7 linked regions of the Homo sapiens genome follow. The protein of the gene in region 4 interacts with the protein of the main gene of each other region in a pairwise test. Each region holds a gene or a part of one and is shown on either strand. Other genes may lie near its edges.

Region 1 (3,500 bases), on a different chromosome or scaffold from region 4:
GCAACAATGAGTTAAATCAACCCTGATGTTCAATACAGTGTCTGATGCAGCCGAACGGTCTATACATCCACAGAAGGGAGAAAAAAAGGCATAGCCAGAATTTCTAAGTGAAAAGAATACCAAATCCATGTTTTAAAGTGAAATGGAGGCATCTCCGCTGGGGCAAGACCTGTCACATGTTTGCTATTCCTAGAAAGACCTGCAATTAGCTGCCAACAGATGCATTATTTCATCAGTCCCATAAATACTCGATGAAAGTCTTCCGCTTTTCCTTTATGTCAGCCTTGCAGAGGTAGGAAGAAAAAAATCTTGTGACAAAATGCAGTACTGAACGATCATCATTTCCTTTTAAATGATTAAAATTAGCATTCATAAAAATAAAATATTTTAGTGAAATCTCATTCCAGCATACCTCTAAAGGCCCTTGGAAATTCTCCTCTTAAAATGAAAAAAAAAAAAATGCATTAGTACAATTTTTAAAAAGCCTCTTTCAATTATTAACACTGCAGCATAATACAATTCCATTTCAAACTCAGTGGGAAGCCAAGATTGCGCAGCAGAAAAAGTCCTAAATCAAGAGTTGCAAAGCCTGGATTCTAGTCCCAGTAATAAATTACATTAACTAGCTGTGTGATCATGGGCAAGTTGACTTAATCTCCCTAGGCCTCTGTTTTCTCAGAGAAAAATTAGATGACCTGTGAGTCCCACCCAGTTCTAAAATTCATAATACCAGGATATGGCTCCATCTTGCTGACTTTGTTTCACTAGCAAGTAAATGTGTTTAAAATTTAGAGAACTTACGAATTTTGAAATTCTAGTTAATTTAACTAATTCCTATCACTGGGCATAAATTGAAAGAGCAAAACTGTGAAGCATCATGAAAACAGCTCTATCTACTATCTATACTAGAACTGGAGCCTTCCTGCTTTAACTATGCCAGCCAGGTGATGGCTCCTCCCCCAAATGCCTGTCTTTCTTTTTAAATTAAAAAAATATATGATGAAAAGCAACTTTTGGCCACATCCTCACACCATTATTATTTTCTTTTCTTTTTTTTTTTTTTTTTTTTTGGGGGGGATGGAGTCTCACTCTGTTGCCCAGGCTGGAGTGCAGTGGCACAATCTCGGCTCACTGCAACCTCCACCTCCTGAGTTCAAGCAATTCTCCTGCCTCAGCCTCCTGACTAGCTAGGATTACAGGTGCCTGCCACCACACCCGGTTAATTTTTTGTATTTTTAGTAAAAATGGGGTTTCACCATGTTGGCCAGGCTGGTCTCAAACTCCTGACCTCAAGTGATTCACCCGCCTCAGCCTCCCAAAGTGTAGGGATTACAGGCATGAGCCACTACACCCAACCATTATTTCCGTTGGTTTTGTTTTTTAGACGAAGTTTCGCTCTTGTCCCCCAGGCTGGAGTGCAATGGCGCGATCTCAGCTCACTACAACCTCCACCTGCCAGGTTCAAGCGATTCTCCTGCCTCAGCCTCCCAAGTAGCTGGGATTCCAGGCGCCTGCCACCACGCCTGGCTAATTTTTGTATTTTAAGTAGAGATGGGGGTTTCACCATGTTGGCCAGGCTGGTCTCAAACTCCTGACCTCAGGTGATCTGCCCGCCTCGGCCTCCCAAAATGCTGGGATCACAGGAGTGAGCCACTGTGCCTGGCCTATTTTTTTATAGTCTCCTTTATGTTGACACATTTCTACTTAAATGTAAGTAATGGTTTTTTCCTAAATAATTTGGTATACTTTCAATCTTATTTCCTATTCAATATTCCTATGAACATTTTTCTTTTTATTTTTGGTTGATACATAAAAATTGTATATATTTATGGGATACAGGGTAACATTTCAATACATGCATACAATGTGTAATGATCAAATAAGGGCAATCAGTATATCCATCATGTCAAACATTTATTCTTTCTTTGTGCTGGGAATATTCAAAATCCTCTCTTCTAGCATTTTGAAAACACATAATAAATTCCTGTTAACCATATTCACCCTACAGTGCTAGGACATTAGAACTTATTCCACCCATCTAGCTGTAATTTTGTATCCATTAACCAACCTCCCCATCCCTGCCTCCCTCATACCCTTCCCAGTCCCTAATAACCACAATTCTAGTCTCTAAAAGTCATGTATTTTTAAAAGGAACTTCGTAAATAGAAAAGTTTTGCTTGCCATAAATGGAAGGAACCCATTAAGTTGACACAAAAAAAGCAATACAACTAGATTCTAGCTAAATACTGTTGCCCACAGAAGGCTTTAAGCATGAGGACCTCCTATCATTCTTACCGAACTGAAACAGAAATAGAAAGGAAATAACTTTCTCATCATGTAATTCAATATTACTTAATCCCACATCCACGTATCAACTAAAGTCATGCTACGAGCCACACAAGATCACGGCTGCACACACATCTCACATGTTGAGAGCAAAACAAAAGGTAGCCACTGAGCCTCTGCTGATGTGGAATGTGATTCATCCCAGGGAGGAAGGTGTCTTATTAGCCACATTGTCACCTGTGGCTCCCACTTGACTTCCTGTGTATTTGTGGTCCCCTCTATCTGAAAGCTCTCCTCCCTGTATCAACTCTGCAGCCAAACTCAGTTCTCTGCTCAGTGTCCCCTCATCAGAGAGGCTTTCCCTGACCACCCCCACCACCACACATACCGCTTCTCTTCATAGCGCTCTTCACCACCAAATGTTATTTATTCATTTGCTTATTATCTGTCCCTGCCCTTATCCCCTCCCTCTACTAGAATACATTGAACTCCATGAAAATAAGGGCTTTGTTTTGTTTACTGTTATATCTCCAGCACCTACTGTCTTGCACAGGGGTCCCCAACTCCCATACCGGTCCGTGGCCTATTAGGAACCGGATCGCAGAGCAGGAGGTAAGTGGCAGGCAAGCGAGGATTACCACCTGAGCTCCTCCTCCTATTGGATCAGCAGTGGCATTAGACTCTCATAGGAGCATGAACCTATTGTGAACTGCACATGCCAGAGATCGAGGTCGCGCACTCCTTATGAGAATCTAATGCCTGGTAATAATCTAAGGTGGAACAGTTTCATCCCGAAACCATCATTCCCCCCAACTCTCCCGTTGGTTGAAAAATTGTCTTCCACAAAACCAGTCTCTGACGCCAAAAAGGCTGGGGACCTCTGGTTTAGCACATGGTCAAGACTCAGCAAATATTTGCTGGATGAACGCATGAATGCCCTCAACTGATCTGGAGATCCTCCATTTGTCTTTATATACCCAGTACCTGGCATTCAGTAGGTCCTTAGGAAGTATATGAAAATCGGGCTGGGTATACACAGAAACCTGGGCCCTCTGCAGACTCTCCCTTTACCGAGGGAAGGGTCTTGCTATGGATACTGACCCACTGTTCTCACTCTAGCACACAGGACGCCACTAGGCAAACACTACTCAGTCACAGTGGAAGCACATGGATAGACTGCAAGCTAGATACACTGAGACCAACACTGAACTTAC
Region 2 (3,500 bases), on a different chromosome or scaffold from region 4:
TAAGCTGGGTGTGGTGGCATGCACCTGTAATCCCAGCTACTCGGGAGGCTGAGGCAGGAGAATTGCTTGAACCCTGGAGTTGGAGGTTGCAGTGAGCCGAGATTATGCCATTGCACTCCAGCCTGGGCGACTCTGGCTCAAAAAAAAAAAAAAAAAAAAAAAAGAAAGAAATGCTGCATCACTCAACTCACATTTTTATTGAAATATTAGGTCAGTATTAGGTGGAAAGTGTGGACAATAGTGATTGAGTTGAAAGTGGTTTAGTAGTCAGATTTCTGAATGTGCATAAGATTTAGGAATGCCTTAACCAGTCTATTGTGCTTATATTTTCCTTCTTTATATATGTGCATGAGTGATATGTGATTAAAATCTATAAATAAATTAAAAGAATGCATCAATAAGTATAAAATAAAAATTCTAAGTGATAAAAGCATGTATCATACTTTAATTGGCAGCCTTTGTTCTTTGTGATACATAAAATAACGATGCTATTACAATTGATGGTGCCTTATATTCAGTGAAATACAGCATATGCATTCAAGGCCCCAGATTTCTAATTACTGCTTTAGTTGAATCCCACAAGTTTTGATATATAGTACTCAATGTTCATTGATCATTAAGCAACTCATGATTTCCATTACAATTTCTTCTTGTATGTGAATTATTTAGAAGTGTGGTTTGAGTTTCCAAGCTTATGGATACTTTTTGGCTGTCTTTTTATTATTGATTTCTAATTGTATTGCATTGTGGTCAGAGAGTGTGGTCTATGTATTGTTGATACTTGTTTTGTGGCTTGGTATATGGGTGGTTCTTCCTTTGGTTACTGGGGACCCGTCTCCTCATCCTCACCTGCTGCTTGCCTGCCACCTCCCCTGGGCTTGACTCCATCCCAGTTACACCTCAAGCAACCAGTTGGACCTCACTGTGCTGGGGGCTGCTCTAGGCTCTAGGGCATATTCCAGAGCAGCACTTCCCACACTTGGCTGACCCTAAGAATCACCTGAGGTGCTTCTTAAATATCCTGGCTCCCAGACTGTAGGTCTGAGTCAGAGCCCTGGGGCCTGCATATTGAACAAGTACCCCAAGGGGATTCTCGTGACTGGGCAAATTCAGGAAGTTCTGTGCAGTTGGGAATCTGGAAGTGGAACTGGATAAAATACAGTGCAGTGATGGAACTAGACTTCAAGAAGGAGATTACTGCCAAACGTGAGCCTAAATGAAGAGCAGGGGTGAGGGTGGGGGCTTATTTAAAATGCAGGTTCCCAGGCCTCACTTGGAGAGATTCTAATTCAATAGGTCTGCGATGGAATTTGAGAATCTGTATTTTTAACAGGCTTCCTGGGTAATTCTGATGCAGATAGGCCTTGCGCCATGTCCTGAGAAGCCCCAGAGTGGGAGGATTTTGAAGGGAGGGAGTAGCTCAGCTGAACTTTAAGCTTTGTAGAGTAACAGGCAAAGTCCTCTTAGGAGTGAAAGGTTTGGTGATAGATCGGGACTTGATAAGAATGGAAAAGGTATTATTCACTTGTGATATGAATTTGAGAGGAAATGAATAAAAAATTCTCTGAGTAGCAGTCCTGCTGATAGATGGTGGGAATTTGCATAGTTTACACTATACAGTCATATCAACGGGTTCTGCATTGGCAGATTCGACCAACTGCCCATAGTAAATATTCAAAAAGGAAACAACAAGTCTGGGTGTCGTGGCTTACACCTGTAATCCCAACACTTTAGGAGGCTGAGGCAGGTGGATTGCTTGAGGCCAGGAGTTTGAGACCAGCCTGGCCAACATGGTGAAACCTTGTCTCTACTAAAAATACAAAAATTAGCCAGGCATGGTGGCGAGTGCCTGTAATACCAGCTACTCATGAGGCTGAGGCAGGAGAATCACCTGAACCCAGAGGCGGAGGTGGCAGTGAGCTGAGATCACACCACTGAACTCCAGCCTGGGTGACAGAGTGAGACTCTGTGTCAAAAAAAAAAAAAAAAAAAAAAGAAAAAAGAAAAGAAAACAACAATATAACAACAAAAATAATACAAATAAGTATATAACAACTATTTACATAGCATTTGCATTGTATTAGGTATTACAAGTAATCTAGAGATGATTTACAGTACAGCATACAGGAGGATGTGCATATGTTATATTCGAATACTACACTGTTTCATATAAACGATTTGAGCATCTTTGGATTTTTGTAATTTTTGTATTGCGGGGGTCCTGGAACCAATCCCCCGTCGATACCAAAAGATGACTCTATATGTGTGAAGCATGATACTGTGTAGGTGGAATAGTAGTCAGTCTAAAAATGTACTCAAGAATCAGAGTTTGACTCTTATTTCTTACAATTTTCTCATAACCAGAGGTTACATTGCCATCTATTGAGCTTTAGTGCTCTACGAAATTATGCATAAAGAAATATGCATAATCTTTTCATCGGACTTTTTATTTTTGTGGCTGGATGAGGTACATAACTGTATGAGATGATAACAGAACAAATTGGCTTTCATGAAGTATTAATAGTATAGCAGAGTGAAGATAATGGATATTCTTCTATGTCTGACACTCACTGGTTTTCAGGACTCCCTTACTTGTAACTGTGGGTGGTTGGGGAGTTATAATTCTTTTTCATTTATTCACTCAAACATTTATTGAGCACCTGCTTTGTGCCAGGCACTGTTATGGATTCTACTAAGATGAATAAGAACTGTGAGGGGAACCCACAGAAGTTTCTGAGGGCATTCTTTGGGTTGTGATCAGCATTATATTCATCAGTCTTTTTATAAACAAATCCTTTGGAAAATTATATTGAGATGCTTAATACAATGTACAGTGCTATATAGCTCACTTCAGATCCTAGGTCTTCCACTTAGTTCAGAGTAGGTGAACTATATGTAGGGGCAAGCAGTCTAGTACAGGGCTTAGAATCTCAGGCTTTAGTGTCACAAGAGCTGTAATCAAATATGGGCCTAGATGTTTTCTTTTTTCTTTTTTGTTTTTCTGAGACAGAGTCTCTGTTGCCCAGGCTGGAGTGCAGTCATGTGATCTCGGCTCACTGCAACCTCTGCCTCCTGGGTTCAAGCAAGCCTCCCACCTCAGCCTCCCAAATAGCTGGGATTACAAGAGTGTGCCACCATGACCAGCTAGTTTTTGTTTTTTGTAGAGACGGGGTTTCACCATGTTGGCCAGGTTGGTCTCGAACTCCTGACCTCAAGTCAGGGTGGATCTTATCTGATCCACCCACCTTGGCCTCCCAAAGTGCTGAGATTACAGGCATGAGCCACCACGCCGGGCCTAGATGTTTACTTTTTATGCAATCATAGGCAAGTTTCTTAGCCTTCTCAGCCTCAGTTTTCTCAACCATAAAATGGGGATAATAAGGAATACCTAAGCCTGTGGGTTGTTATAGGGATAAATGGAATAATATGTGTAAAGGTGTTGACATAATCCTCAGTGCACAGTAAATGTTCAATAAATGTTAGCTGTTTTAAAAATTTAT
Region 3 (3,500 bases), on a different chromosome or scaffold from region 4:
TAACTGCACATGCGGAATACCAGGAATTGTTTGTTCGACTGCTGGCAGACCTTTGGGCTGTCCCTGGTGTTTGGCCACTGTGGCCTTCATGCCCACATCCTCCTGGTCCTCCTGGTGGTGGTTCTGAAGGGCATCTCCTCTCATCTCATGGCTCCAAGTGCTTGCTAGTGGGTCCCCTTTGCCCTGAGCACCTGTTGATATCCTTTGCCCATGTTCTTCTTGAGTTGTTTGTGTCTGTGTTTTCTTGTTGTTTTGTAGGAATTCTTTGCATATTCTGGAAAACCCATTATGAGGTCCATGCATTGTAAGGCTCTCCTCTGAGCCCGCCTTTTTACTGTGTTTAGGGTGTCTTTTGTCGTCTAGAAGTTTTACATCTCTTCCATTATTGCTTCCCCATTTGAAATATTGAGAATTTCGTCTCTATCCCACACCATAAAGATATTGTTCTCTTGTTTTGCTTTGTCCCTGTAGGTCTTTGATCCAATTGGAATTGCTTGGCCAGGGCTTGGACTAGGTCTTCTGTCTTGGTGGGGCGAGCTCCCAGGGTGTGGAAACGTTTGCAGGTGGGGCAGGAGGGAGAGTCTGGTGGGAAGCAAGCCTGGGGTTGGCCATGTTGAGTGTTTGTGCCTTTTAGAGACTGGAGTGGTCGAGTAGGCAATCCGAGGGTTGGGGCATTACAGGGGTGGCTTTACCAGTGTGCTACCTCAGGATGGTTGGGGGTGGGGCGGGGAGGCAAGGCTCTGAGCAGGACTGGAAGAGCTGCTGTCATCAGAAGGGCCACAGTGTGGCTCCTTACCATGTGCCTGGCCCTATACCTCTTTGCTCATGGCCCCATATTTTCCCACCTTGTTGGTAGCCCTTAGCCCTTCCCCAGAGGGGAGCTCATTTCTTCCTTGGGGGTCCAGCATGACCGATGAGGAGGAGAGAGAGAGAGAGCGAGAAGGCTTCAGGAGCCCGTGGCTTCCACCCAAATACCTGCCTGGCTGTCACAGGCGATCACTCTGGTTGCTGCTGATCCGAGGTGCTGAGGCTGTGCCCACGCCCATCCCCCTCTTGACATCCCAGCCTCCGCCAGCCCGCCCAGCAAGCGCTCCTCAGTTTCCATAGCAACACTGCTGCTCGGTAATGATTCCGGGTAGAAAGGCATTCGTGCGTTCTCTGTCATCTCTGTCACCTGAGCATCCCACTGCCTGCTTGCTGTCCTGCCCCGGGAGTTCAGGAAGAAACCCTGAGGACAGCTCCGAGCCCTTCTGCTTGTGTGTTGGCTTCTCCTCAAGGGCAGTGGTAAGGTGGTAAATGTTCCCAGACAAAAAGCCCTGATTTGGAGCATTTGCCGATTTCCCTGGTGTAAATGCTGCCACTATAGCCGATTTCAAGCCACCACTGCGATGTCACTGAACTTGGAGTTGGGGGAATGCACACATAGTATTTCCATCTCCCATACCAGATGTGAATAACCCCAAAAGCACAGATGACAGAAAAGTGTAGTAAGATAATTAGACAGTGATGTGTTCCGAGGATTTATTGCCTTTGTTGTTAATATCATTCAGTTACCTGTACATTTCTACGGTTAAAATACCAATAATCGCTGTGTTTGACAACTGGCTTCCAAATTTCCCAGCTTCAGTTGGCTCTAGCCACTGCTGCTGAGAGTGTCGAGGCCATTCCATCATGTCCCTTTGTCTACAGCCTTCCTGAACCCACACTCTGCTGCCGCCCACCCTCTTCCATCCTGCCTTTCTAACTGTAGCCTCTCCACCAAGCACAGCATGCCCTGTCCTGACTGACATTCTTACGGTCTTCCAACAAATACCTTCTTGGCTGAAAGCTGTTTCCTTTATAGTATTTGATCCAGAAATTCCACCTCAAGAAATTTTCTCCACCTTGACAACCACTGGTTACACAAAGATTTAAGTATGAAAAATGTATAAAATGGACCCCAGAATGTGTCTTTGCCACATTCTTTATAATAAAAAATCAAAGCCACCCTTACTGATGTGATGATGAACATGATGGTCCACTGGTGTGTTGGTGTGGATGGACCTTAAGGGGCCTGCAGCTGCAAAATGGCACACATAGAAAACAGACTGGAAGGAAACAGGCCGCATGGCCAGGTGCGGTGGCTCATGCCTATAATCCCAGCACTTTGGGAGGCTGAGGCAGGAGGATTACTTGAGGTCAGGAGTTTGAGACCATCCTGGCCAACATAGTGAAACCCCATCTCTACTAAAAATACAAAAATTATCCAGGCGTGGTGGTGGGTGCCTGTAATCCTAGCTATTGGGGAGGCTGAGGCAGGAGAATCACTTGAACCCAGGAGGCAGAGGTTGCAGTGAGCCAAGATTATGCCACTGCACTTCAGCCTGGATGACAGAGCAAGACTCTGTCTAAAAAAAAAAAAACAACAGCTGGGTGTGGTGGCACACACCTGTAGTCCCAGCTACTTGGGAGGCTGAGGCAGGAGAATTGCTTGAGCCCAGGAGGTGGAGGTTGCAGTGAGCCAAGATCGTGCCACTGCACCCCAGCCTGGGCAACAGAGCAAGACTCCATCTCAACAAAAAAAAGCCCCCAAAAAACAAAAAAATGAACTGTGTTTCTTTTATAATCGGACAAAACTGATTTTGACAAAAAGCTCTTTTCAGAATATGAAAATTTTGGGGAGAAGGGAGACATAGAAAACTTCAATGATTATCTACAAGGACATAGTCAAATAGAAAAAAAGTAATGCAGGAGCCGCTGCTGAGGCCACAGGGGTTCCGAGGACAAGCTGGGCTCTCCTCAGATAGCTGTCTTCCCGAAAAGACTCGTACAGCGGTGGTTCTACTGTATCGCGGGCACTAAGACAAGATTTTGCCGTCAGAATTGACATCTCTGTGAGAAACCCGGGGTGGGAGGTGCCGCCGTGAGAATGCAGGACAGAGAGTTCTTCTAAACTTGCTAATATTCGCACAACTCGGAAAAGCAGAGGGCTCCGTGCAGGCGCAGCCACCTGCGCCCATGCCCAGGGCCCTTCTGCCCTCTCATCTGGCACAAGCTCCCAGCCTGCTCCATCCCTAGGCGGACTCTGGGTCTCCTCGCCCTGCCCTCTCTGTGCTGACTGGGGGCTTTGCTTCCAACTGCAAACCAGCCTCCCTGGGTCTTTTCTTGGCCCTGTTCCCTTTGCCTGATGGAGGCCAGGTGTCCCCTGCTCCAGAAGCCTTCCCCGCCTCCCACCGAGGCGTGCATGGCCAGCCGTGTGCTCCCTTAGCTGTGGGTAAGGTCTGTCCCCACGCTCACCTGCGGGGCATAGCCATTTGGGCATAATGCTAGTGTGTAGCCTCCCCAGGCCCAGAACAGCCCTTCCATAAGCCGCTGAGCCCATGAGGAGACCCTGCACGCCTGCCTCGAGCTGCCTCCTCCTAGAAGTGCTTCCTGCTGACCCTTGCTGGCCCCATGGCACGTGCCCTGAATTCTGGTGGAGTCTGTTCAGTCCTTCTTGGTCCTTAGTCATTCGTCCCTTC
Region 4 (3,500 bases):
TATAAGATATCTGTTTATTCATTTTTGGTTCACAATACAGTATCTGGGGTAATGGGTTGAGGAAGAGGATGTGCACTGATTGTCCAGAACTCTGGGTTATGTGCAGCCATTTACATTTGGGTGTATGGTGGATGTGTAGTGGGTAAACACTGACAGTAGAGTTACTTCCAGCTATATTTTTCCTAGATTTAATATGACAGTTTATTTCATCTCCAAAGCACACAACAGCTGATGATTTAGGGGTAAAAAATGTAAAGAAAAAAAGAATAGTTGGCTGTGACTTTAATCTATCCTTTCAGCATAATTATTCATTCTCAATTGATAAGAAAGCTGAACTCAACATCGTTTGTGTAAGGAGATTTTTTTCCCCACATTTCAAAAGTACTTTCATGTGCAAGATCTTATTTTTGAATTTAAATTCAAAGACAGTTAAGTTCAAGGGGTTAAACAAAGCATTGGAAACTTAGCTTCTTTGCAGTCTAGATTGATAGCAAAACCTATTGTCTATATAATTGTAAGGAATAGTTCCTATAAGCAACAGATAATTAATGTGATTTTTAGATTTTGATGGTAGCTTTTTAAATTTTGATTTCCCCAGGGATGATGATGTTTTGTTTGTTTGTGAAGGAGAGCCATTTATTGGTAAGTGACTTTAAAAGCCAATTTTATCTGCCAAAAAAAAAAAAAAAAGATGGAATGACAATTATTTTAAATGGGGCTATTAAGCTTAAACATTAAAAATGATCTTATGGCTGTATTCAAATCTTCACACTTTTTGATTCTGCATTGGGTATGTTAAAGTAAATTTTTTACTATATGATCGTAGTTTATTATAGATGCATGTTTTACATGCCGTTAAAATGCTCTGGAGGTATACATATTCATTAACTGTAACATAGTAAGGTAGTTTTGATCTTAGAAACAATTGTTTTGTTTGAAAATTTTTTCTTTGATGGTGAATGTCAAAATTTTTCTACGTGTTGTATTACATATTTGTGAGTAAATATTGCTTGCGTAAGTAGTGTTTGACAGTATTTCACAGTGATCAGATCAGCCAAAAAATGACTTGGTATCAACCACACACACAGGTGTGCACACACACTACCCTTTGATTTGGAAGAAAGCTTATAGTTGTATATCTCAAAAGAAAAGGCCGAAAGGAAGATAAAGTATTTGATTTATTTAGATCCATACAGTCCACACTCTGAATATTTAAGTATTTTTTAAAGCATCATACTAATTGCATTTGGTGAGTGGAAGTAGTTCTCACGATTGTTGCACAGGCAATTGTCAACTTAGAAGTAAGTGCATACTCTTGTCTGTCTGTCTCTACCTTAAAACTGTAAGCAAGAACTTCTCATCTTCTTTTATCCATTGGCCTAACAGTGACTGGCAGGCAATGGTCACTTAATTGGTCCACTGCATACAAACACAATAAAAAATGATCAATTAAGGTTTTTTTATTGTTATTAACTCATGGATTTAAAAATATTTGGTATATTTTCATCCTCTGCATTTATTGATGTTCAGATGGTCTTAATTTTTTGCCACTGGAAATCTCTTCGGGTCTTTTTAACAAACCTTGTTGGATTTTATGGCTTTCTTATTATCTGGAATAACTGGTGTTCATCTTAAAACCTTTTCCTGTCTCAGACCTGGATCAACATTTTTCCAACAAGCCTTGATTTTTTTAGTGGGAAGTGTCATTCCAAGACAAATCTGGGTGCTAGGGAGGCTCTTCGCTATTGGGTTCATTATTGTTGCTATGCCTTTTGGTGGACAGAATTGAAAATATATAGGTAGAGATAAAATTTGTATATAATGTATGTTATAGGATATAAAGTTTATATGTCATATATAACAAAATATGGATAGATGAAATAACTCATGGCTTCATAGTAGTACTTAAAGTTTATATTAAGGATTATAAGGTTTTTACTTATCCTCTTCTGTCTTACATCTGTGTCTCCTTTTTCTATATCAATAGTCCTGACTTTCAGGGACATGGAGACTAATAGAATTATAATGTCACATAATTACTCATTTACTTTACCCCATACAGAACACATCTAAAAATGTCAGAGTAACAAACTCAATACTTTCAGTACCAATATAATTACTAAAAACAGTTAAATGTTTTTCATATGCTAAATCCCTTCTCCCCTTACTTAAAAATAATTGTATTGTTTCTGAATTGTCGGAACATATAGCCATTGTATATTATAGTGTCTCCCTTTATACACTCATTTAGTTTTACTTCTTCAAGCGTACACTTACCTCCAGTCCTTTTGTTATGTTTCCAGTGTTTATCTGAAACTTGTTCTCTAGTAGATTTCTCTCCAAGATACTATGAGAACAATATTCGGTGACATCTTCCAATGGCAAGATGCCATTGCCATCCACCATCTTTATATAATTTTGGTATAAAATTATATGTCAAAGCTTATTAAATTATAAACTTTAGTATGTGTAACTTGTTCTGTGTTAATTATACCTCAGTGAAGCTATTGAAAAATCCTTGGTTCACATTATTTTTCTTTGAATATCTTAAATATGTTACTGCATTTTATTCTGGCCTGAGGTGTTGGTCTCAAAAAATCTGATCTTTCTTATGTGATTATTTTTCATAGATCACCCAAAGGATATTTCTCTTTCTTTAAAGTACAGTAATTTTAGTAGAATATTTATTGGTGTTCTGAGTTGTTCTGGATTGGTTTTCTCAGTATGTGATGGATCCTTTCAATATATAGTTTCAAGTGTATGTATTTTAAAATTTCAGTACAGTTCTCTTGAAGTTGACATTTTTATTTTGTTCACTTTGATTTGATTTCCTTCTTTCAGGACTCTATTGTATGTAGGGTGGATCTTTTACACTTGTCTTTTATGTTTGAAACTTTCTTTTCCTTTCTTTTTATTTTATTTATTTTTTTGAGACAGGGCCTCACTTCATCACTCAGGCTGTAGTGCAGTGGTATGATCTTGGCTCACTACAGCTTCAACCTCCTGGGTTCAAGTGATCCTCCTGCCTCAGCCCCCAACCAGGAGCTGGGACTGCAGATGTGTGCTACCATGCCCGGATAATTTTTTTGTATTTTTTGTAGAGATGGGGTTTTGGGGTTTTGCCCTGTTGCCCAGGCTGGTCTCGAACTCCTGAGCTCAAGCAATCCACCCGCCTCGGCCTCCCAGAGGATTATAGGCATGAGCCACCACGTCTGACCATTTCTTTTTAATTTTTCAAGCTATTCTCTTTTTTACCTTTTCTTTCCCTTAAGTCATTGTCTATTGTGTTTAATCACTCTTGTATTTCTTTTGCTTTAGTCTTTAAAAATCATTTTTCTTTTATTTCTAATTCTCTTGGGAGTTCTTGCTACTCATTTCTGAATTTTTAAATCCTGGTTTATATTGTTGTTTTATACCTTGTATAAACTTCTTTTAGCATGTTTTGGAATATTAGATTATAATTTTGATCTATTTTGTGGGTATTTCTGGCATGTTTTCAT
Region 5 (3,500 bases), on a different chromosome or scaffold from region 4:
TTAAAGCCCAGGTGCCTCCTTGCTCAGGCAAAGCAGCTTCTAGCATCCCAAGGGTAGCTTTCCCACAGAGATGCAGGGCATTGGTGGCCAGGCTGGTGGGCATGGAAAGAACAGGGCAGTGCGAGGGAGTCTGGAGCAGCAGCATCTGCTAAGACATTCCATCCAGCCAATGGTTGGTGGGCTCGATGCTCCCTCAGAAGGTAAATTCTGTGCTGTGCATTCCCTGGGTTAGGAGTGACTGTCCTGGGCATCAGGGAGGGCTTCCAGGAAGGAGGTGGCCCCAGAGCCATGGGGAAGCCTCCTGGGGCCAGGACTGGGTGGGGAAAGCATTATAGGAGTGGTATAAAGGAAGTGTAATTCTTCTTCTTCTTTTTTTTTTTTTTTTGAGATGGAGTTTCACTCTGTCGCCCAGGCTGGAGTGCAATGGCGTGATCTCAGCTCACCGCAACCTTCGCCTCATGGGTTCAAGTGATCCTCCTGTCTCACCCTCCTAAATAGCTGGGATTACAGGCATGTGCCACCATGCCCAGCTAATTTTTGTATTTTTAGTAGAGATGGGGTTTCGCCATGTTGGCCCGGCTGGTCTTGAACTCCTGACCTCAAGTGATCTGCCTGCTTTGGCCTCCCAAAGTGCTGGGATAACAGGCATGAGCCACCGTGTCCTGCCAAGAAGTACAATTCCTTTTTTTTTTTTTTTTTTTTTAAGATGGAGTCTCTCTCTGTCGTCCAGGCTGGAGTGCAGTGGTGCGATCTCGGCTCACTGCAAACCCCGCCTCCCGGGTTCACGCCATTCTCCTGCCTCAGCCTCCCGAGTAGCTGGGACTACAGGCGCCTGCCACCACGCCCGGCTACATTTTTGTATTTTTAGTAGAGACAGGGTTTCACTGTGTTAGCCAGGATGGTCTTGATCTCCTGACCTCGTGATCTGCCCGCCTCCAGGAAGTATAATTCTTAGGACAAACTCCGAGCCAGGAAGCGCAAGCTTTCCTCACAACATCAGTCACCTGTGTCCACCCTGCTTCCTCTCCAACTCCTGGTCCTTCAAGGTGTCCCTGCCACCTCTCTGTCTCCTCCCCCTGCCCCACCCCCTGCTCCGGGATACCTCCCAGAATCCATTCATGGAATAGACTTTAACTGAGCCCTGACTGGGTGCCAAGCCCTGCTCCAGGCCCTGGGAATGTGTGTGCAGCTCCTGCCCTACGGAGCTCAGACCTCTGCATGGGAGGAGACATGCATGTGGCTGCAGCCAGTTAGCGAGAGCTGTTAGGTAATGCGCAAAGAGAAAGGGATCGCGAGGGCTGCAGTGCGCACGGGTCGGATTTGAAATCGGTGGCCTTGAGCAGGTGACGTTTGAACTGAGACTGAAAAGAGGGGAGGGCGGTGTCCTGGAGGAGCAACAGAGAGTCTGAGCTGGAAGGGCCGTTTGTTGTCCTCTGGCCTAAACCCTGAGGCTCAGAGGGGAGGAGCAGAGCTTCCGCCCGCACAGCAGACTCAGCACAGTGGCCGCTCCAGTTCCCACGGAGGTGGGGGAGGGGCAACGATGTTCTGACCCCTTCTTAGGCAAACACCTCCTCCTGTGGCTCTGGCAGAGACCAGCTCCAGTCCTGTCTGCTGGGTCCTTCCAGCCTGTCGTGTCCTGTTGTGTCCTGAGCTCCTGCTGGCTGTCAGGCACGCTTGCTGGTGCTTCCTGGTGCGCGCAGAGCCCCGGGATTGTCATCACTGATTCCTGCATTGATCTGTCTGCACCCCCTCTTCATAAGTTCAAGGGTGGGACCCCCTTCTTACTTGTCTTTGCACCCTCTGGACCTGGCTGTGCTCAGTGAAATGGAAGGAAATGGAAATGAAATGGAAGGAAAGTTAAGTGCCTAGAGAAGTGGATGAGACGGGGTCCCCACCCCAAGGTACTGGCAGGCCAGGGACAGGGGCATCACTGAAACTGTCCTTTAACACTCCAAAGAGTGTTTCAGCGTCAGGTGGAGGGGAGGGCAGGCTTTTTGAGTAAGAGTTCCCCCAGTGGACGTGGGCTTAGGGAGAGCTAGACGAGGACAGCATGAGCAAAGGTGGGGAGGCTGGGCGATCTGAGGGTCGATGGAGAAGGGCAGCAGGGGTTGCAGAGGTGGGCAGAGTCCAGCTTCCAGCCAAGGACCCCTCCTCTCCTCCAGGTACTTTGAGAACATCCCCAAGGGTCTAGACCAGGAAGGCTGGACTCGAGGTGGCATCCAGCCCCAGATGCCAGGAGGCTACGCCCTCAGCCAGCCGGTCAGCTGCATGGAGGCCACCCCCAACCCCATGGAGAGCCTGCGGCACCTGCATCCCCACGTGGGAAGGTGGCACCACCCCCAGCTCTGTTCTTTCTCCCTACCCCTCATCCAGGCCGTGTGCCAGGCCTTTCCCTTCCTCTCCTCTCTTGCTGTCAGTCCGGTTCATTCCTATGAGAGGCCCATCTCCTCTGGCTGGCTCTGGTGTCCCTTCTCCTGCTAGCACAGGCTCCTCCCCTCCTCTCCTTCCAGTGACCCCTCCCTCAGATGGCTCCTCCTCCCTCTCCTGCCCCTGTTCCCCAGGCCCGGTGGACTGGATGGGGAGGATCTGAGCAAGGGGCTCTGGGGTGGTTCAGATCCAGAGGGGGATGCGGGGACGGATCCAGAGATGAATGGACTGTGGTTCGGCCTCACTCAGCTCCTTTCTGCTCAATTCAATTCCTCAGAAATTACATTTATATCAACAATGGCCCAGAGTTGGCAGGCAAAGAATGTTTGTGGCTTGGCTGCCCTGGCTGAACCCTGGCTATGCTCTCTCAGGGAGGGTCAGGCAGAAGACAAGAAGACAAGGTCCATGCCCTGCCTGCCAACACCCCCAACACTCTCCTCTTGCCTCCCTGCAGAACCCTGACCTCAGCTGACCCCTTCTACCAGAACACACCTCACAGCAGCCGCTGCGTGGCACACAGCTGAGCCCTGAGCCCTTGGTAAGGGGCTGGGGATCCCCACACTCAGCTGCTCTGGTTGTGTGGGCAACCGTTATGGGCCAGCCCTGCCTCTCAAGCCCTGGGTTAAGCAAGTCCTGCCTGGGGACCCCCCTTCCAAGTGGGGGGTGACAGATCAGGGGGCCTCTCAGAACCCCTTCTCTGCCAGGCAAGCACACAGAACCACCCCAGAGCCCCTTGCTCAGGCCTCGCCTCTGCTTCTCCTCTACAGGTTTGTCAATCCTAGGGGACAGGAGCCAGGCTACTGTCTGTACCCCCACTCCATCCCCCAGGGGAACACCCCTGCCCAGCTACTTTCCTAATGAAATAAAGAGCATTGAAGCAGAGAAGTGTGACATCACTATCAGGGTGGCTGGAAAAAGGAGGGGTGAGCTGGGGCGGTGGGTGCAGGGGTGGAGGAGCTAGGGCCAGATTTGGAGTCGGAAGGGCTCGGCTGGAACCTCTGAGGAACCATGACACGATGGATAGGCACTTCATTCTCCACGCTCAGTTTCTTGTCCTGTAAAGGGGTCCTCTA
Region 6 (3,500 bases), on a different chromosome or scaffold from region 4:
GCTTCGTTATAGGCCAGCACAGTGGCTCATACGTGTAATCCCAGCACTTTGGGAGGCCGAGGCAGGTGGATCACTTGAGGTCAGGAGTTCGAGACTAGCCTGGCCAACGTGGGGAAACCCTGTCTCTACTAAAAATACAAAAATTAGCCAGGTGTGGTGGCACACACCTGTAATTCCAGTTACTCGGGAGGCTGAGGCACGAGAATCACTTGAACCCTGGAGATCAAGCCTGTGGTGAGCCGAGATCGTGCCACTGCACTCTAGCCTGGGCGATAGAGTGAGACTCTCAGAAAAAAAAAAAATCTCCATTATAATCTTACGGGACCACCATGTGCAGTCTGTAATGGACTGAACTATCATGCAGTGACTATATTTCACATCTTTAATATCCTGGTGTTCACTTTGCTTTGTCATCTTTTGTAAAATAAACCTCTTGGTTTACCCTCTCCCACCCCCTACTTCATCCCCTCTCTGAACTATATGTGGGAATACCAGCAGTTGCCAAACTCATTCTGTAAAGGGGGCTGGATGGTAGATACTCCAGGCTCCGTGAGTCATTGTTTCTGTGGAAGTTCTTCAACTCTGCTGTTATGTCAGGAAAGCAGCTTGGGCACTACGTAAACAAGTGAGTACTGCCATGCTCCTGGAATAGTTTATCTGCAAAAACAGGAGGCAGAAAAAGTAGAAATAGGCCAGGCATGGTGGCTTACATGTGTAATCCCAGCACTTTACGAGTCCAAAGCGGGTGGATCGCTTGAGGTCAGGAGTTAGAAACCATCCTGGCCAACATGGCAAAACCCTTTCTCTACTAAAAATACAAAAAAATTAGCTGGGCATGGTGTCAGGCACCTGTAATCCCAGCTTCTCTGGAGGCTGAGGCAGGAGAATTGCTTGAACCCGGGAGGCGGAGGTTGCAGTGAGCCGAGATCACACCACTGCACTCCAGCCTGGGTGACAGAGCAAGACTGTCTCAAAAAAAAAAAAAAATTAGAAATAACCCAAATGTACATATATAATGAATGGATAAAAAATTGTAGCATATCCATACAATGGAATATCATTCAGCCATAAGAAAGAAATGGCAGGCCAGGCGCAACAGCTCATGACTATAATCCCAGTGCTTTGGGAGGCCGAGGCAGGAGGATTGCTTGAAGCCAGGAGTTTGAGACCAGCCTGGGTAACATAGTGAGACCCCATTTTTACAAAAACTTTTAAAAATTGACCAGGCATGGTGGCACACCTGTAGTCCCAGCTATTTGGGAGGCTAAAGTGGGAAAATCGCTTGACCCCAGGAAGTGGAGTGTATAGTGAGCTATGATTGTGCCACTGTACTCCAGCCTGAGGCAGTAGAGTGAGATCCTGTCTCTAGGAAAAACAAAAAATAATGACATACGTGCTACAACATGGATAAAATTGAAAATGTTATGCTAAGTGAAAGAAGCCAGCTGGACGCAGTGGCTCACGCCTGTAATCCTAACACTTTAGGAGGCTGAGGTGGGCACATCACCTGAGGTCAGGAGTTCAAGACCAGCCTGGCCAACATGGTGAAGCCCCGTCTCTGTTAAAATACAAAAATTAGCTAGCATGATGGCGGGTGCCTGTAATCCCAGCTACTGCTCGGGAGGCTGAGACAGGAGAATCTCTTGAACCTGGAAGACAGTAGTTGCAGTGAGCCGAGATCCCACCACTGCACTCCAGCCTGGGCTGCTGAGCCGAGACTCCATCTCAAAAAAAGAAAAAGAAAAAAGCCAGACATCAAAGACCACATATTGCATGATTCCATTTATGTGAAATGTCCAGAATAGGTAAACACATAAAGAAAATAGACTAGTGGTGGGTGGGGTAGGTGGGGAGTGGCAGTAACTTCTAGGTACAGGATTTCTTTTCAGGGTGATGACGAAAATACTCTAGACTTAACATAGCAGTGATGGTTGGACAACTTTGAGTATACTAAAACAACTGAATTGTGAATTGTATACTCTAGATGGGAAAATTTCATATGTGGATTATATCTCAAAATTTTTTTAAGAAACAGGCGGTGCTGGGCGTGGTGGCTCACATCTATAATCCCAGCACTTTGGAAAGCTGAGGTGGGTAGATCGCTTGAGTCTAGGACTTTGAGACCAGCTTAGGCAGCATGGCAACACCCCATCATCTACGAAGCACACAAAAATTAGCTGGGTGTGGTGATGCGCATCTGTAGTCCCAGCTCCTTGGGAGGCTGAGGTGGGAGGATTGCTTGAGCCTGGAAGGTTGAGGCTGCAGAGAGCTGAGATCATGCCACTGCACTATCCAGCCTGGGCAAGAGAGGAAGACTATCTCAAAAAAAAAAAAAAAAAAAAAAAAAGGCAGAATCCAGATTTGGCCTGAAAACCAGAGTTTGTCAAGCCCTAGGTTACACCATCTCTAGAAAACAAAGCCTGGGAGAAAGAAGAAAAAACAGGTTGATTTTTAATGGTTTAGCTTGCGTGGATCCAGGTCCTGACAGTTATGGAATCTTTCAAGGACACATTTGACCAGATGAGATTTGGCAGGCGTTTGTGTAGAGCCTCACAGTCCAGACAGTGCCTCACCGTATTATGATGTGGGGGTGGGGGCGGGCTTCTGGTGCTCTTGTCCTCCACACAGGCCTGAAACAGCACAGGACTGGGGAGGTACCATTGGAAGCACCCGCAACCCTAAAGGCACTGACCCTAACCTCACGTCTCCCCACTAGGGAGAGAAGTCTTTTTTCCTCCAGCCAGGAGAGCAGCTGGAACAAGGCATCCAGGATGTGTATGTGCTGTCGGAGCAGCAGGGGCTGCTGCTGAGGGCCCTGCAGCCCCTGGAGGAGGGGGAGGATGAGGAGAAGGTCTCACACCAGGCTGGGGACCACTGGCTCATCCGCGGACCCCTGGAGTATGTGCCATCTGCCAAAGTGGAGGTGGTGGAGGAGCGCCAGGCCATCCCTCTAGACGAGAACGAGGGCATCTATGTGCAGGATGTCAAGACCGGAAAGGTAATGGCTGGGAGTGAGCAGCAGTGCTGCCACGTGGCCTTGGCCTTGGTGGCGGCTTCCTCTGGGTGTGTGGAAGAGGTGGGCAGGGACTTCAGCAGCATGGAGAGCCATATCAGGTGGGCTGTCTGGTTGGGGGAGGGCACTACGTGGAGTGTTTGCCATCCTTCTGCCTTAAATGTCTCATTTGAAATGTTAGAACCAACCAGGTGCGGTAGCTCACATCTGTAATCTCAGCACTTTGGGAGGCCGAGGCGGGCGGATCACCTGAGGTCAGGAGTTCAAGACTAGCCTGGCCAACATGGGAAACCCTGTCTCTACTAAAAGTACAAACATTAGTCAGGCGTGGTGGTGGTCTGAGTAGTCCCAGATACTTGGGAGGCTGAGACAGGAGAATTGCTTGAACTGGGAAGCGGAGGTTGCAGTGAGCCGAGATCACACCACTGCACTTCAGCCAGGGTGACAGAGTGAGACTCTGTCAAAAAAAAATATTAGCATGTCCACT
Region 7 (3,500 bases), on a different chromosome or scaffold from region 4:
CAGTTGGGCTGGCACCAGAGTCAGGAGGCACTAGCCTGCTCTGCTCGCCCACACCCAGCCGCCTTGCGTAAGGCCCACCCAGCACCCATGGTGCCGAGCTCGGGCCGCACAACTCACTTTAGCTGTCAGCTGCTGGGGCCACTCCTGTGTCCTGTACTTCCCTCCCTCAGGGGTTCAGATCCCCTGTCCGCTCTTTCTCTGTGGCCTCTTGCGTCCTGCACTGCCTCCCCTGCTGGCCCCAGAGCCCTCTGTGCTCTCCTGGCCTCTGAGCTCCTTCTTGGCCCCTTCCTTCTCTGCTTACCCACGTTGTTCCCCAGAACTGCTTTCCCTGCAGCTTCACCTCGGCAGCATTCTCTTCCTCCTGCTCAGCAAAACCACAGCCAGACCAGATTCTGTTCTTCCTGTTCTCTGCCTGCAGCCCCGTGGGGGGCACCGCTGGAGACGCCTCCTCCGCTCCCGGTGCCCGCTCCAGCCCTGGCGGAGGTGGGCCCGTCTCACACTCCTGGCTCACCTTCTCAGGGCATCATTTCCAGGGGTCCTGGATTTACTCAGGACCTGCCTGTCCTGCCTCCCTCCTTGTACGGACCTTGGCTTTGTCCTTTGTCCTCTTCTTGGCCTGTCAGACACAGGATTAGCAGGTGTCCCTCAGGCCCCTCCGGGTGAACTTCAGCTTCACCCCTGCTTGTTTCTCTGACTCTCACTTCTCACTTCTGGCTCTGGGGACTTCCTTTCCCTTTCTACAAGCACAGCCATGAGTTTTAAAGGATTTTTAAACACATTGTCCAGCAATTCCGGTTGCTGTTGAGAGGCTCTGCGCACTGCTGGGAAGGGAGGGCCTCCGTGTTTCCTGAATCTTTTCCTTCCTCTCCATTCCTTCCACCAGTGCCCTGGACAGGGACCCATGATCTCTCACCTGGACCGCAGTGGCCTCCCCCACCCCCTAGCTGCTGCCAGAAGGATCCATTTGGAATGCATTCCTAGGCACGGGCGGGTGCTTCACTGGCTTCCCCGCTGTGAAGATCCCTCCCAGGCCCTGGGCTGGGTCCCAAGGCGTCCCAGGGTCTCGTGGGCGCTGTTCTCTCCTTTGGTCTTTGTGCAGAACAGCCTGGCAGCCTGTGCCCCCCACACAGACTCTGCCATCTCCTCTCTGGTCATTTCCCATCTCCTTTGAGACTCATCTCGGACACCACAGAGACTGTCCTTCCCAAGCCCTGCTCTCAGGCGGTTTGGGTCCCTGCTGTGCCTCTGCTGTGGCTAGCACCTCCCCTCTCCCGCAGTGTGTTTGAATTGCTGGTCTGCCCCCTGCCATCTCCACTCGACCCTTGAACTTGCTAAGGTCACTGGCATCTTCACCCTTGAGTGTGCTGGAGCCAGGCAGCAAGCCCATGTGCTCCTCTGGAGCAAGGAGCAGGTGTCCAATTGCGTGTGTTTCGCAGGAGGAGCACCGTGAGGCCAAGCTGACCCTGCGGCCCCCGAGCCTGGCAGCCCCCTACGCCCCAGTGCAGAGTTGGCAACACCAGCCAGAGAAACTCATCTTCGAGTCCTGTGGTTATGAAGCCAATGTGAGTTGCTCCCACCCTCCCAGCAGGGCCGGCCTCCCTGCTCCTTCTCGGCCAGGCACCTGCGGCCAAGTCCCAGCAGGGACTCCACAAAGCCAGGCCCAGGGCTTTTGAGCTGTTCTCCACTCTCAGCCACTCTTGACAGCTAAGGCGAAGGGGTGGAGGCCTCTGGATCCTTTAGCTAGGGAGTTGAATGGAGGGTCTCTCCAGCTGGGGCAGGAGAGGGGGTGTTGTTATTGAGAGGGGTAACTACTTGATTGTGGGACAGTCCCAAATTGGTTGGGTCACCCCTGCATGGAAACGCAGGATTTCCTAAGCCTGGCCACTGCTCGCCCCCACAGTATCTGGGCTCCATGCTGATCAAAGATCTGCGAGGGACAGAATCCACGCAAGACGCCTGTGCCAAGATGCGGGTAGGGTGCCTGTGTGGGCTGGAGGGCGCTGTGGGACTGGCCAGCAGAAGGCAGCAATGGGGGCAGTAGCTGCAGTTGCCTGGGCCCTGCTGCACTATGTAAGGATGGGAAGGAAGCTGGGACCTGTGGAAGCCCAGGAGGCTTAGCCCTGAGAAGGGGCACTGACAGGGCCACCCCTTGTTTCCTGTAGAAATCTACGGAGCACATGAAGAAGATCCCCACCATCATCCTGTCCATCACATACAAAGGTGTCAAGTTCATCGATGCCTCCAACAAGGTGTGCTGCTTACAGGGACTCTTGGTGGGAGTGGGACCCACATCCCCGTCAGACCCACAGGGCTCCAGGGCAAGCAACCCGGCTGCCCTGTCTCATCTCTTATCTCCCTAGAGGGTCCCCAGTCCTCTTATTACTTCCCACTTTGCTAAGAGGCGTGTCTCTCATCTGCTGGCCTGGGTGCCTGCTGTCAGCCCCGTCCCCGCCCTAGTGATCACTGCTGTTAGCCTCGCCACCTGGGCTCCACTGGCCGCACACCTGCTCACAGGTGTGATTCCCTCCGTGAGCAAAGGACTTTCTCTGTGTGCCACCGTGTGGGATCCCACCTTCCTGACACCCTTCCCACTTTGCCCCCACCCTGGAAGGTGGGAGGGGCTGGGGAGAGCTTGTGGTTGGGTGTGAACATTTTACTGCCTTAGTTGTTGTGGTAAGGGGTGGAGACCCCAAACCAAAATCGGGGACCCCCACCCCCACCAATAAACAAAATGAGAAGATGAAGGGGGGTTTGCTTGATGCTCTAGGCTGGGACAGAGAACAGTGACAATGGTAACAGGCTGGGGCAGGGGGTGCCAGAGGCATGCCTGAGCCTGAGAATTCCAGAACACGGCTTTCCCCAGCAGAACGTCATTGCAGAGCACGAGATCCGGAACATTTCCTGTGCGGCCCAGGACCCGGAGGACCTCTGTACCTTTGCCTACATCACCAAGGACCTGCAGACCAGCCACCACTATTGCCATGTGTTCAGCACCGTGGATGTGGTGGGTGGGGTCCTGGGGCCGGGTGGGGCAGGCTTGGGTTGCAGCCCTGAGGCGTCCAGCCCCATTGCAGGGCACAGATGCGGCGCTGTCCTGGCCCCTGGCCAGTGCCTGGCAAATGTTTGGTTCATGAATGGAGCCCAGCAGCACTCAGGCCGGTCCCCTTTCACAGTGATGAGACTGACGCGCAGAGGGAACAGGGACTGGCCCAGGGCACTAGGGACAGGAGGTTCCAGCTTTTTTTTTTTTTTTTTAAGAGATGGAGTCTCACTATGTTGCCCAGGCTTGCCTTGCACTCCTGGGTTCAGGCAAGTTACCCACCTCAGCCTCCCACGTAACTGGATAATAGGCGTGAGCCACCGCCCCTGACTTTCCAGCTTTTTGGCGAGTGTTTTCTTAGGTCAGGCAAGGCCTTTGTTTCCCCCGGCTCCCTGCCCTAGGTCTCCAACCTCTGGCTGGGCCGCCTCCCAGAAATGCCCTCTACTTCCCTCTTAGGGGC

What was found.
Region 1: the proteins of KCTD9 (region 4) and CRADD interact in binary tests that used the Homo sapiens proteins (3 or more experiments, as listed by UniProt).
Region 2: the proteins of KCTD9 (region 4) and SPATS1 interact in binary tests that used the Homo sapiens proteins (3 or more experiments, as listed by UniProt).
Region 3: the proteins of KCTD9 (region 4) and PDZD4 interact in a two-hybrid assay, tested with the Homo sapiens proteins (one large-scale study listed by BioGRID).
Region 5: the proteins of KCTD9 (region 4) and SAXO4 interact in binary tests that used the Homo sapiens proteins (3 or more experiments, as listed by UniProt).
Region 6: the proteins of KCTD9 (region 4) and MVP interact in a two-hybrid assay, tested with the Homo sapiens proteins (one large-scale study listed by BioGRID).
Region 7: the proteins of KCTD9 (region 4) and ANKS1A interact in a two-hybrid assay, tested with the Homo sapiens proteins (one large-scale study listed by BioGRID).

What each region holds. Positions count from the first base shown.
Region 1 is NC_000012.12:93,683,875-93,687,374, reverse strand, and holds part of CRADD (death domain-containing protein CRADD), read right to left. Parts: intron 1-3,500. UniProt on the Homo sapiens protein: Adapter protein that associates with PIDD1 and the caspase CASP2 to form the PIDDosome, a complex that activates CASP2 and triggers apoptosis.
Region 2 is NC_000006.12:44,349,150-44,352,649, forward strand, and holds part of SPATS1 (spermatogenesis-associated serine-rich protein 1), read left to right. Parts: intron 1-3,500.
Region 3 is NC_000023.11:153,810,045-153,813,544, reverse strand, and holds part of PDZD4 (PDZ domain-containing protein 4), read left to right. Parts: intron 1-3,500.
Region 4 is NC_000008.11:25,441,434-25,444,933, reverse strand, and holds part of KCTD9 (BTB/POZ domain-containing protein KCTD9), read left to right. Parts: intron 1-598; coding exon 599-642; intron 643-3,500. UniProt on the Homo sapiens protein: Substrate-specific adapter of a BCR (BTB-CUL3-RBX1) E3 ubiquitin-protein ligase complex, which mediates the ubiquitination of target proteins, leading to their degradation by the proteasome.
Region 5 is NC_000011.10:61,487,620-61,491,119, forward strand, and holds the end of SAXO4 (stabilizer of axonemal microtubules 4), read left to right. Parts: intron 1-2,162; coding exon 2,163-2,327; intron 2,328-2,881; coding exon 2,882-2,951; 3' UTR 2,952-2,965; intron 2,966-3,194; 3' UTR 3,195-3,309; downstream 3,310-3,500.
Region 6 is NC_000016.10:29,837,462-29,840,961, forward strand, and holds part of MVP (major vault protein), read left to right. Parts: intron 1-2,716; coding exon 2,717-2,998; intron 2,999-3,500. UniProt on the Homo sapiens protein: Required for normal vault structure. Vaults are multi-subunit structures that may act as scaffolds for proteins involved in signal transduction. Vaults may also play a role in nucleo-cytoplasmic transport.
Region 7 is NC_000006.12:35,081,255-35,084,754, forward strand, and holds part of ANKS1A (ankyrin repeat and SAM domain-containing protein 1A), read left to right. Parts: intron 1-1,436; coding exon 1,437-1,562; intron 1,563-1,900; coding exon 1,901-1,972; intron 1,973-2,162; coding exon 2,163-2,249; intron 2,250-2,863; coding exon of another isoform or gene 2,864-2,866; coding exon 2,867-3,004; intron 3,005-3,500. UniProt on the Homo sapiens protein: Regulator of different signaling pathways. Regulates EPHA8 receptor tyrosine kinase signaling to control cell migration and neurite retraction.